3 separate regions of the Homo sapiens genome follow, and regions 1 and 3 are each linked to region 2. The links come from fine-mapping of genetic effects on gene expression. A gene starts in region 2. Each other region holds a variant in brackets. All regions are shown on one strand. Distances are from middle to middle.

Region 1 (4,231 bases), 66 kb before region 2:
CAGAGTGCCTTTCCTGCACATCATGTGGCATGAACACTCACTCATCCTTCAGCCTAGTTGTCACTTCCTCCAGGAAGCCTGCTCTGATTACCACCACTGCCCCCTGTCATTTTTCCAGTTCAAAAACATGCTCAGGGATTTGGACTTGAATACCACATGAGTCAGTGAGCAATTGTAAGCAAGGAAGGAGAATTGTTTCAATTGTGATGTAGGAAGGTCCCTTCAGGGAAGAAGTGGTCAGAGGGAAGAGCAACTGGGTAGAGAAAAGCAGCCAAGAGGTGATGTCAGTGTCCCCAGCAGGCAGGAGGTGGCAGTGGCTGGCGGTGGGGTGGGAGCAGTGGAGTGGGAAGGAAGTGGGCAGAACCAGAACCAAGGGGTGGGTAGGAGGCAGGACTGCCCAGAAGAATTAGGGCACCCAAGAGGCAGGACTGCATGGTGGCTGGTAAAATTAGAGCACCTGAAAGACAAGAAGTGTCCAGCAGATCCCCAGAATCTTGTCTGGGGGACTGGGTGGGTGGCATACCCAGGGAGAGGTGAGAGTTCCCTAAGATGGCTGTGGAAACTGATTATAAATGGTACAGTCCTACTCAAACAGTATTTCCTTGGCATTTTGCTTTAAAGATTTCCTTTGCACCTGTAATTCAGCACTTTGGGTGGCTGAGGCGGGAGGATCAGTTGAGTCCAGGAGTTCAAGACCAGCCTGAGCAACATAGCAAGACCTAATCTCTACAAAAAGTCAAAAAAATTAGCTGGGCATGGTGATGCATGCCTGTAGTCCCAGCTCCTTGGGAGGCTGAGGTGGGAGGATTGCTTGAGCCTGGGAGATTGAGGCTGCAGTGAGTTTGATAACACCACTGCACTCAGCCTGGGTGACAGAGACCCTGTCTCAAGAAAAAGGAAAAAAAAAAAGGAAAGAAAGAAAGAAAGAAAGAAAGAAAAAAGATTTCTATTGCACACAGTTCAGCCAAGAATTCCCAGGGCAGCTTCCAGAGACCCTGTGCCCACAGGTCCCTCTGTGACCTCCCCAGTCCTCCCTATCTCTCAGTCAAGGCTTTCCTCATCCTCCTCCAGAAAAGAGGTTGACCCTCCACCCTTCAGGAACCTCTTAGCTTTTTCTCCTCCACTGGCTCCTCTCAGCTGCACAATCAGTTGCCCCGCAGGGAGTGTCCTTGTGACTGGGTATTACAGTGGCTAAGAAAAGCCCTGGGGCCAAGCCACGGAGGCTCAACCCTGGCTTTGTGACTTACAAGCTGATGCCATGAGTGATTTGCTAACCTTTCTGCGCCTCAGTTTCCTCATCTTTGAGATGGGGATGTTAATAATATCAGCTACCCCACTGGTGGGGTTGAGGATCAAATGAGTCACTAACAGGCCACAGGTAGCCACCTAGCCCAGTCCCTGGCCTACAGTAGGGGTTTGGGGAATAGCAGCAAGGATTGCTGTTATTTCTATGATGCCTGGGGTTCCCCCCTTGCCTGGAGAAGGGGAGACAGCAAGTCAAGTCACTAAGTCCAGCCCACATTCAAGGGGAGGCATGTCAAAGAATACACAGGCATATTTCAAAAGCCTCAAGTTTGGCACCTACGTGTGATGAAATGTGACTTAATGGTTATTAGCAATGGTGCAGCTGGCCGGGTACAGCAGCTCACGCCTGTAATCCCAGCACTTTGGGAGGCCGAGGCGGGTAGATCACCTGAGGTCAGGAGTTTGAGATCAGCGTGGCCAACATAGTGAAACCCCGTCTCTACTAAAAGTACAAAAATCAGCCAGGCATTGTGGCAGGGGCCTGTAATCCCAGCTACTCAGGAGGCTGAGGCAGGAGAATTGCTTGAACCCAGGAGGCGGAGGCTGCAGTGAGCCGAGATCGTGCCATTTCACTCCAGCCTGGGCAACAGAGCGAGACTCCTTCTCAAAAAAAAAAAAAAAAAAAAAAAAAAAAGCATTGGTGGCAGCCGAGAGTTGAGTTTGAGCTGCCTCATTCCAGTAGTATCTCGTGCTGATGCTGGGCCATGTGGATGAGCAGCGGCAGGGACCTCTGTTATTCCAGCAACCCTATGCCCTGCCCTTTGTGGGACCCAAAGCTGCCTCCTCCCAAGCCTGTGGGCTCAAGGGACTGCTGCCAGCCGCCCCCGCTGTCTGCTGCCATCCTGTGCCCCCACTCTGAGTCTGCGAGGTGGCCTTACCCGCCAGCTGCCTGGTGACTGTGAAGAATGACAGGCTCCTCCTTCAAGGGTGCGCACTGGCCCTTATCACAAGAGAGTGATGTCTG[C/T]GGCACTGAGCCGGGTGATCCTGCCTGCCCGTTCAGCACTCTGCAGAGGGCAGGGCGGCCGCAAGAGACAGAAATTCCATTTGACAAACTCTCCATGTGGCTGGGCAGCCAGACAGGAGCAGAATGAAATCAAAAGGGAGGAAAATTGGCCTAGCTTCCTAACCAGGTGCTGAGTGGATGCACCAGGCTTCAGGAGAGGGAATCAAAGAGGGAGAAAATTGGTGGCCTTGGTCATAAAGGGGATTGATTACCCAGGGACCTGTCACACCCACCAAGGTCAGCAGAGTGGCCTTGGCTGGCCCTGTTTCCTGGAAGACAGGGTGCCTTTGGCAACTTCAATTCACCCGGGTTCAACTAGCTAATAAGTGTGCTGGGTCAGGAGGAGGGTGGTCAAGGTTTTCCAATTATGAGCCCTTGAAGAGAGGGCTTCAGGGCCTGAGAAGGTCTGAACATGACCCCTGTCCATGGGCGGTGGAGCGGGGCTAGAGAGGAGCATGCCTTGGCTTTGCACTCAGATGAAACTGAGTTTAATGACTACCTCTGGTGGGTAAGTCCCTTCCCCTCGCTGAGACTTTGTTTCCCATCTGTCAAATGGGAGTGTCGATACTTTGCTTTATTAAGAGCTTGCTTTGTGCCGGGCACTTTGTGACCTACTTTATGGGTATGAACTTATGTCATCAGAACAGTAATCCTAAGAAGCAGCTGCTATTATTATTATGATTGGCATTTTACAGAGGAGGAAATTCAGGCTCAGGAAATTTAATGTTCCCGGGTCCTGCTATAGGTTGAGCACCAGATCTATGCATGGGTGACTGGCTGGTATGCAAACCTTTGGCCACTGTGCTGTCTGTCATCAAGCCAGGCGCATCCACTTAGGGTTTGTAAGGATTCATGGAGATGTGCTAATGACAGCAAACTAGGAGCCCAGTCTACGTGCTGAAACCAGAATAAGAACTTTCCATGCGTTGACTCATTTGTTCCTCACAATAAACCTATGCAGTAGGTACGACTGTAACCTGCACTTACAGGTGAGGAAATTCAGGCACAAAAAGGTCAAGTCTCTTGTCTAAGTCACCAAATTTATATATGGCAGAGATGGGAATTGAGCCCAGGAGGCTGGCTCCAGAGTCCTTCACTTAACCTTATGCAAAGGCATAGCAAGAGCCTGGCCTGGGGTCCAGCACACAGCACATAGTAGGGCTCGGGGAGGGGCAACCTCAGCTCTTTTCCACCTGGGGCAGCCCTTCTCCCTAAAAGAAACCTAAATGCAGTGAACATGGAGGAAGCCCACGTGCCCACTACAAGTCTGGCTCTGGGAGATTTAGGGATGTCCCCCACCGCCCCAGCCTGGGCTTCCAGCCTGGGCAGGGAATCAGGCTGACTTGGGAATGTCCCTAGTTCAGGGAAGACCAACATAGAGCTGGGAGTGGGGTTGCCCAATGTGCAGGGGCTTCTGGGAAAAGAACAGCAAAAGGGCAGGTAGGATGTGGGAGGTGGAGATGTGTCCTGAGAAAGGGAGAGGGCAGTCCTGACGAGCACCCTGCCTTGAAGAGCTAACAGGTGTGAGGCTGCCAGACAGGTGAGCTGTAGCAGCCCACAGCTGGCAGATGGAACGACTCTCAGACCTCCCACTCCCAAAAGTCTCATGATGCCTGGCTGGAGCCCGGGGGTCACAGGGTGCAGCCAGCAGGCAGGGAGTGTGCTCTCTAGATGCATAAGCTCAGGAGAGCGGCAGGAAGGAGCAGCCAGCTGCACTCCAGCCAATGCTCGGCTCAGGCCATCCCTGCCCCCGGCCAGACAGGAGCCCTGGCCTCGATTCTGAGGGGCTCCACCAGCTTTTGCTCCCATCCTCCAGCCACCTGGGACCCCACCCCTTAAATCACTACCCCAGATCATTAAACTAGGAGTCCGTAATGCTGACACTCCCTCAGAGAGCATTTATCTGGAAAGTCATAAAATTGC
Region 2 (4,231 bases):
GGTGTCATTGTTCTCTGACGTCACGCCTCAGCCCCGCCCCTCTCCCCCCACCCTTCCTCCCCCACCTCCGGCTCCCCGCGCCCCCGACCCTGCAGCCTCCGAAGCCCCGGCCGTGCAAGGCTCCCCCCGCAGCCCGGCCGGGGCTGCGCCCCCTTGCGCTCTCCCCAACTTGCCTTTGTTATTCCAGCTCCCTTCCTCGCCTCGCCTCCGACACGGTGGCAGCCTGCAAAACGTGGAGCGCGGAGTCACTGCCACACCTGGAATCCGAAGCGGGCTCCGCCGGCTCCCGGCCGAAGCCGCCCCCGCCTGCCGGGGAGGGGAGCGCGTGCGTGGGCGGCGCGTGTGTGTCCAAAGAGGGCTGCGCGGGCGCCAATTATGATTGGGACTGGGGGTGCCGAAAATCAGGGGTGGGGGGCCTCGAGGAAGGGGTATGGAAGAGGAAGTGGGAGAGGAGGGCGTGTGTTTGTGTGTGTACGTTAACGTGAGGATTTAGTGCCCAGGGGAACGTTTCGTGTTTTGTTTTTTGATTGTATGTGGGGTTGTGTACAGCGATGTGTGTGTGTAACTGCGTGTCTCTGAGCGTGCCTGCTGTGGCCGTGTAAGCGGGCATCTTTGTGAGGGAAAGTAAGCGAGTGTGTGGGGGCGCGTTTGTGGTTTGGGGGGGAGCGTGTTTGCAATGCTGAGGGAGCGAACGTGTGTGCCGTTCTTGTAGGAGTTTCCGTGAGAGTGGCAGTGGACGTGAGCCAAAGTGGGCGCGTAGTTGGATGCTCTCGGGGGGGGGGGGTGGGTCGGCTAGGGGAACTCCCGCGAGTGGGTGCACCCAACTGCGCCTCGTGAGTACCTTAGCTCTCCGCTATCTCTGGCAGTGCCCAGTCCGGGGCAGAGGGCCAGGCCCCAGCCTAGCAGCTCCCACGCAGCCCGCGCGCACAGCGCCCCGGGCGCTCCGCGCCGGGCCTAGGGGAATCCACGCGTCTCTGGACTGTGCTAGGTGCCGCGGATCAACTGTGGCCACCACACCCCCGCTCCCCCACAGCTGTCGGGGGGCCGCGCTCTAGTCTCCCTCAAAGTCACCCTTGGTGGTGGTGGTCCTCTTCCCACCCCAACCACCAGTCCCCGGGCTGTAGGAACAATTCCAAAGTCAACCCCAGGGGAAGGCTTTGGAGGTCCAGTTACCAACTCGCTTACCCCAATTCGGGTACCTGACAGCGCCCGGGGCCACGAGTGCACTCCAGGCGGGGGCGTGCCAGCGCGGGGCAGGGGCTCTCGGGTGAGCAGTGTGATTTTGGCTTCCTCCCCAAGGTGGTCCCTACCTAGGCTCAGCATTTGTTCCCCTCTCCAAACTTACTGGGGCTGGGGCCTGCAGGGGGGCTGGGGGCTGCAGGGGGCGTCAGGGAGTAGCGGAGGGAGTAGGGCAAGGAGAGAGGTGAGTGGACTGGTGGCGTAGCGGGGAACCAGGAGCCAGGAGAAGAAAAGCTGGGAGAGCGCCGAGACCGAGGAGCGAGGAAGAGAGGAAGAGAAAGGAAAGGAAAGGCGAGGGAGAGAACGAGGAGAGGCGAAAAGGAAAGGGGAAAGAGAGCGCAGAGCGCGAGCCAAGCCGAGCGCCGGCAGCGGCGGCGGCGCGGCGCGGCGCTCCACTCCGGCCTGACTCCGCACCGGCTTTTGCGGGCGGCCGGCGGCGCGGGGCCCTTTGGAAATAGAATAGCCAATGTAATCTGACACTTCAACTTGCTCGGCTCCGGGCGAGTTGATTCACTTACTCACCCCCTAACGCCGAGTTCCTTTTCACTGTCTGTGGACATTAAAAAAGCGAGCGGCGGCGGCGGGCGCCGGGGAGAGCGGGCGGCCGGGCGGCAGGCGGGCGAGCAGCGATCGGGCGGCCGAGCGAGCGAGCAACGCCGGCGCAGCGCGGTGACCCCAGCCCCAGCCGGCGCGGAGCAGGAGCCGGAGCCGAGCGGATCTCGGCGCCCTCGCTGCGCTCCTCCCGGCCCGAGCCTGCCCTACCCGGCGGTGGCGGCGGCGCGTCCTCCAGCGGCGGCAGCGGCGCTCGCAGCGCCCGGTAAGTTTGGGGCCAGAGCCAGGCGCCCGCTGGCTCCGGGGCTACCTCCCGCTCCCCGGGGACTCTCGGGGTGCAAGCGTGGGGATTGGGTGCTGGGGTTTTTCCCTTAAAGTGTCCCCCGGAGCGGGGCGACCGGCCGGCGGCGCGGGCTCCGCTCCGCTCTCCTTGGCGGCCGGGGGCCGAGGCCCGGCGGCCGGCGAGCTCCCGGCTGCGCGGAGCCGGCTTGGGCTGCGCGTGGGGGCCGGGTTTGTCAGGGTGTGCGGGGCGTAAGTGTGGTCGTGCGCGCGCGGACCCGGTGCCCGCCTCCTGCCGGCGCGCCTCCAGCCCTCGCTCCCTACACCCGGGGGCCGGGCAGGACCGGGAATCGGAGGAGGGAGGGAAGGACCGCCTCGGTCTCCTTCGCCTCCTCTGGGGAGATGCGAAGTTGTGCGCCTGTGTGTGTACAGGAACCGCTGGGGAAAGCGCTGGATTTCAGGATGGCAAGGGGTGGTGGTGTTAACTTGTGCGTCTGAATTTCCAGGGAAAACATACACTTTTGTAAATGGGAGGTGGGGGCGCGGTTAAGTTGTTTGTGTGGGAATTGCCCGGGGAAAGCTGGCGCGCGGTACAAACGAGAAACGCGGAGGTGTGTGTGCAGGGTTTTCTCCCAGGGCTTCGCAAGCCAGAGGGGCGCTCAGGCCAGTGCCTGGACGGGGCTGCCCCGGCCAGGAGGGGAGCCCAGGGGGAAGATGTGCGTGTGTGTGCGCGCGCGCGTTGCAAATACGAAAGTAATTTCCCCGTGTTCTTTCTTCCTCTCCGTCTCCGGCGGCGGTGGCCCCGGGGGAGTGGGAGGCCAGCCGGGGCGGAGGTTGGGGGGCCGGGGCTGGAGCCGGGGTCGGGGGGGGGAGGCGGGTTCTGGAAGCTTGCTTCACATTCCTGGCGTCTGGGCTGGGGAAAAAACAGTGGGGAGCGCGGCCTCGGCGTCTAGGGCGCGGGCAGCGGGCGCGCGTCGCCCCCTCGCTGGGGACATCTGTCCAGGAAGCCGGCCGGGCGGGGATAGGGCGCGGTGCGGAGGGCAGGCTCCCCGCCCTGGAGCGGTGGGGGCGCGGGCGAGGGGCGGCCGCCTTCCCGGCCATTGTGCGCCAGCAGATTTTCACGGGAGACTGCCCCGGAGCCGCCGGAGAAGGCCGGGAGCCGGCCTCAGCCCCGGGTTTAAAAGACACTCCAGGAATGTAAACAACCCGGGCGGGAGGGCGGGCGGACGGGAGCGCGCCAGGGCAGCCGGTCCGGGCCCCCCACCCCTCCCCGGGGACAGCCGGTCGGCACTGCCGCCCAGCCCTACCCCTCTACCTGCAGCAAACTTTTTCCTTCTCTGCCTTCCCTTCCCACCTCGTCCCTCCAGCAGGTCACAGAGCGAGGGCCGCTCCCAGGTGGGCCAAGGGTGCTTGGTACCCTTGCCTGACCGGGGAGGCCTGACGGCCGGGTCCCTGCTTCGGTGCCCGGAGCCCCGGCTGCGCCTGCCCGGGAGCCGTCAGCTTCCTGGGTAGGCAGTGCCCGAGTAACTGGGGCTTTGAGCCTGCCCGCCTGCCTCCCTCCCTCCCTCCCTCCCGCTGCTCCTTCCCCCGCGCGCTCTCCCCCTTCTCCTCTCCCCTGACTGCTTTTCCAATGCCCTGACATGAGGGAGGAAGATTTAACTTGGCAGCCCAAACAAATGTTCTCTCAGAGGTCCTCCAAGAAGCTGGCGGCTGGGCTGGCGGGGTGAGGGCACGGCTCGGCCAGCCTTTCCCTCCTCTCTGCTCTGCCACGGACATTTGGAGCCCTCTGGGTGGACAGCCCAGGGCATGGGAGAGTAGGGCCCAGCCCCAAAGATTTAAAAGGGCAGTGGGCGGCCGCCTGTGGAAGCCCCTGGCTCCGCGCCGGGTGCAGAGCCGCTCCGAGCTGCCTCCTGGTGCCAAGGGTTTTCTGAAGGATTTTCTTGAGCAACAGTTTGTCTCCCTGCTGCAACCTGGGAACCGGGCCTGGTAGACCAGAGGGTTAACCAGTGCCGACTCCTCCTCCCTGGTGGGTGTGAGGACAGGCTGGTTACACAGGGCAGGGCAGGAGGCCAGAGGCTGTTCCCAGAGGTGCCTGGGTTTGCTTATTACTGTTTTTGAAGGTACAGATAAAGAGGCAGGCGCCGGGGCTGGAGAGCCGGGC
Region 3 (4,231 bases), 94 kb after region 2:
CTTGCTCAGTGCATCTGCTACACCACAGACCCCAAGTCCTCCACTGGGCCAGGCACTTTTCTCTATCTTGGAGTCTTCACATATGCTGTTCCCTCTGCCTGGAATGCTGTTTGCTGCATCTTGGTCTGCCTCTCCCTGGCTTGTTGCTCAACTTCACTTCTCCAGAGAGGCCACCTGGGACCTTGAGTCTCTGCTGTGTGGCTCCTGGACTCATTGTTTGTTTCTGGCAAGCACTGCTTTTACTTTTGTATCATTTGATTCTTTGCTCTCGTCTGAGTCTCCGCAAGGGTAGGGATCACTATCACATCAGCATGCTTGCTGAATGTTTGTTGAATGAATGAGTGAATGCGAAGTGCCTTTGTCATTGCATCTCCCTGGATTCTCCCGGTGACCTTGAGACATACTTTGACCCCACTTTGACACGTGAGGAAATTGAACCCCAGAGAGTCTGAGAGCATATCTGTAATCACATAACCAGTAACTGGCAGGTGTGGGGAGTCAGGGGCCTGTTTATGCCAGGGCACCCCATCATGTCCCTTCAGAGTCCCCCTCTGTCAGATGGGGATGATATGGTGGCAGTGGGCAGTGGCCTCATGGTCAGTGCCGGGCCTCTACTGTGGGTAGACCCGCTGACCTCCCACTTTCATTGCAGCAGGATGGAGCTGGAGTGAGGTGGAGGGGCCGCAAGCTGCTGACCGGCGTGTGGAACACTGGTGGTTTGCAGATCACTGAGGTAGGTGTGCCACGGGGCTGGCGGGAGGTGGCTGGGTCGGACGCAGGTGAGTCCTCATGAGGGCAGGTGCTAGCCCTAGCACGCTGGACCTTTGACTCGGGCCTCAGCCCTGAGGGGCAGGAGCGGGCACAAGCCACCTTTGCTGGGACCTCATCATGCCCCCAATGGGCTGTCCCTCTACCTGGCACCCAGGGACCTCTTGGCCTGGCCTTTCTCTAGAGCAGCTGCTAGGGGTGGGGGCTGCAGGTCTGCCCGGGGAGAGGGGCAGGTCTGGCCACCTGGTCTTGGCACAGCAGCCCTGTCTGCACCACTCTAAACCCTGTGGAGTATGGGCAGCCCCACCAAAGGAGGCCTGGGTGAGCAGGAGCATGTCGGCTGAAATGGGTGCAGGGCTACCCACCCCTTCTGCCCACTCTCACAAACATGCCGAGATGGATACACTGGGCTCTGGGGTCAGACCACCTGGATTCAAATCCTGACTGGCATGCATGGTTACTCTGTGCCTCTGTTTACCCATCTATCAAATGGGAATGAGATGGCGGTGCCTGCTCCACTCTCGCAGTGAGGAGACTACACACCTGGCACACAGCAAGGACTAGGGACATGTCAGTCCTTTTCCTCAAGGGTGCTAGGACCCACCTTTCTCCCCACACACCTCAGTTTCCACCACCCTGCTCCCCCTGAGGACCCACCAGTGCCAGGATGGACACGAACTGGACCCCCCGCCTGATAAGGGGGGCAGGGCACCTTGAGGAGCAACTGAGAGCAGCTGGGGCCAGCAGGTCCTAAGGTCGGGGCCAGCAGGTCCTGAGGTCAAGCCCAGCTCTGTCCCGTGCCCCAGCATTTCTCATCATGGGGTGGCATTTCAGGGTTGATCTCACTTGGCCCTGTGCCCGAGGGTGACCTGTGTAATCCCTGTTTACTTGGCAACTCTCAACCTAGAGATGAGAGACTTCACAAAAATCCTTACTTGGCCCAGAGCCCTTTGTCCCAAGGCGTCGTGGTGCTGGGGCAGCCCGGGAGGGGGGAGTCTTCGCCCTGGTGTGGAGCTGTCTCCTAACATCCC[C/T]TGCTGCCCTCAGCGTCCCTCCTGGAGCTTAGCGCTTCCAGGGGCCTAGGGGCAGGGCCAGGCGAGCCTCAGTCAAGCTCCGACATTGGAGAGCCAGGCTCCATCTCCGTTCCTGCTGCAGGAAATCCCAGCTGTCTGCTGATTGGCTGCATGACCTTGGGCCAGTCCCTTCCCTTGTGTGAGAGCCAGCTTTCTCATCTGAAAATGAGGCTGATTATACTGACATTGCTGACAGAGCTGCTGTGAGGATGCTTAGAAGCCATGAATATTTTTAAATGTCACAGTCTCGTGAGCATCTGCTGTGTGTGTGTCAGGCACTATGCTCCTTTAATACCTTTTTACCCCCACAAGAATCCCACGGGGAGGTTTGTCTAATTCATTCTCCAGAGGCTCGGCGTGGTTAGGAAACCCACAGAGCCATCAGTGCTGGAATGGGGATTTGAACCGAGGTCCATCAGGATTAACCAGTGCATAAGGCCTTAGAGGCCAGGGGCGGGGCCCCAGGACAAGCATGGGAGCTGCTTGGGGAAAGCCACTCCATTTCTGCCCTGCAGCCTTTGCCCAGCCCGCCAAGTCCGCTGCTCTCTGGAGCCAGAGGGTGGCCCTCAGGCTGGTGGCCTGCCTCTCCCGATGGGGCCTGCCTGCAACTCGATAAGGCTAGGGGAACCCCCTGCTAATTGTCTGGTAACCTTTGAAATTCTCCTTCACGGTGGGTTCTCTTTTCGGATGTTTTTCAAGGTAATTCATTCCTTTTCCATAAATTGCCAGTGGCGGAGCATTAGGCAGCTGGTAATTAATCATAGGAGCAGCTTCGAGTTGATTCTTTGAAAAAGAAAAAAAAAATGAGGAAGAGAAAGCCTTGGTGGAAAAAGAAAAGAAAACCACTCTAAGGCGAGGGTGGTAATCAATACCTTGGTGTCCTAGACACGGCTGGGGGTGGGGACGGTGAACATGCGGCCTTCTCTCCTTCTTCCCAGGGCTGGCCCACTGTCAGCACCAACAGCGGCAGCGTGGGGCTCCGCTCTTGACCATTGGCTCCCTGTATGGCTTTGAGAAGTTGCTGCCTTTCCCTGGACTCAGCTTTGCCACCTGTAAAATGGGTGAAGGGCAGCTGTTAAACTGAAAAGAACATTGAATGAACCATTGTTCACTACCACGTCTTAGTCCCTGGCACAGAGCAGTGGCCCCATTGATATTCTGTTAATTGAGTGAGTGAGTGAGTGAGTGAGTGAGTGAGTGATTCTCATGCGTCTCTAGGTAGCTGTCTTGAGTGAAGGAGGTGGTACTGGCTATAGGATATTGTGACTGTAGCTCTGTTATAATTTGGAGTGACAGTCAGGGTGATGGGCCAGTTCTGTCACTTTCCAAGCTAATGATGAAAGGACAGTCTTGCTTGGTGAACTCCGGCCAGGAGACCTCAGGCCCCTTAGTGGCAACCATGCTATCTCTTCAGCATCTTCCAATTCAACTTTCCAAGAGTCTGAGCTATCTGGAGATTTTATGTTAAAAAGCTGCCTCCTGCAGAGGTGGTGAGTTCCTCATCACTAAACTGTGTGCAAGCTGGGGTTGCGGCTGTATGGGCCACTTGGACAGTGGATTTTGGGGCTTGGAGCATCCCTGAGTCTGGGAGAGAGCATGAGGCTCTCCAGGATGGTTACTGGGGAGGCTGCACTGATCGGGAGGAAGCCTGTTCCCTCCAGAGCCCCTTCCCAAAGGTCCCAGGGGAGGACTGGACGAGGATACAGGCGCTGAGGCACCAGTGCCTGCTCCCCGCTGACTGGCCCCATTGCATGGACATAGGGGCACTGAGCAGGGTTGAGGGAAAGAGCCACACTCCTTATATCAGAGGGTGTCTAACAGGTTGTGGGTTGGGTAGGGGGGTGGGGAGGTACAGAAAGCCCTTGTCTGGGAGGTGGGGGCCTCAGACCTAGGTCTGATATGCTGGTCTGTCTGGTGTAACCTCAGCAGCTCCCTTTCCCTTTCTGGGATTTGGGCCACGATCCTTCAGGAGAGGGCAGCAGATGGGGAGTGTGTTCTCCAAGCCTTCCTCCCCTGCCTGGGTGAGCTCAGTTTGGGAGCCAGAGCTGGGCCTGACAAAGCCGGTTTCCTCTTAGCAGCTTCTCTCATTCTGGCCCTAATGTGGGACCAGGGTTCCTTGCCCAGAGACCCAGGATGACAGTGCACCCTAGCCTGAGTAGTGGCTCTGGGAGACTCAGAGCTTCCAGAGGGAGGGAGGGAGGAGGGTGTGTGGCTGTGTGCTTGTGTGTAAGTGTGTGCGTAGTAGCGTGTGCCTGTGTATGGGTGTGATTGTTCAGCAGGACGTGAGGCTGTGTGAATATTCATGAGTATTCAAGGAAAGGGGAGACCCCTCCCTCCCGTGTGTGTCAGGACCTCCAGGTGCACACTGGCTCCACATTCAGACTGGCCTGGGG

Alleles and levels. Alleles are on the strand shown, and positions count from the first base shown. SD is a standard deviation of normalised expression in the study named. Not every link is listed here.
In carriers of allele C in region 1, the expression in cerebellar hemisphere of the gene that starts at base 1,752 in region 2 tends to be higher than with T alone (small effect, 0.31 SD a copy in GTEx).

What was found. PIP is the estimated chance that this variant, and not a neighbour inherited with it, causes the effect. A credible set is the group of variants that fine-mapping cannot tell apart.
Region 1: its variant is the best candidate, but not a certain one, in a credible set for the expression of ZMIZ1 in cerebellar hemisphere (GTEx, PIP 0.69).
Region 3: its variant is the best candidate, but not a certain one, in a credible set for the expression of ZMIZ1 in whole blood (TOPMed, PIP 0.67).

The regions. Positions count from the first base shown.
Region 1 is chr10:79,001,356-79,005,586 of GRCh38, forward strand. The region is part of intron 5 of ZMIZ1-AS1 (ZMIZ1 antisense RNA 1); the gene reads right to left. Among named protein-coding and RNA genes, the nearest start is that of ZMIZ1-AS1, 64 kb to the right of the region's middle. The variant C/T (reference allele first, on the strand shown) is at 2,270.
Region 2 is chr10:79,067,215-79,071,445 of GRCh38, forward strand. ZMIZ1 (zinc finger MIZ-type containing 1) reads left to right here and starts at 1,752. Exons shown (of 25, transcript NM_020338.4): 1 at 1,752-2,056. ZMIZ1-AS1 (ZMIZ1 antisense RNA 1) reads right to left here and starts at 234. Exons shown (of 10, transcript NR_024431.2): 1 at 174-234. RefSeq lists silencers at 1-2, 43-92, 193-402, 1,203-1,272, 1,533-2,512, enhancers at 666-1,511, 2,713-2,762 and a cis regulatory region at 1,385-2,070.
Region 3 is chr10:79,161,401-79,165,631 of GRCh38, forward strand. It overlaps ZMIZ1 (zinc finger MIZ-type containing 1), which reads left to right. Exons shown (of 25, transcript NM_020338.4): 4 at 653-733. Among named protein-coding and RNA genes, the nearest start is that of ZMIZ1, 95 kb to the left of the region's middle. RefSeq lists an enhancer at 900-1,571. The variant C/T (reference allele first, on the strand shown) is at 1,800.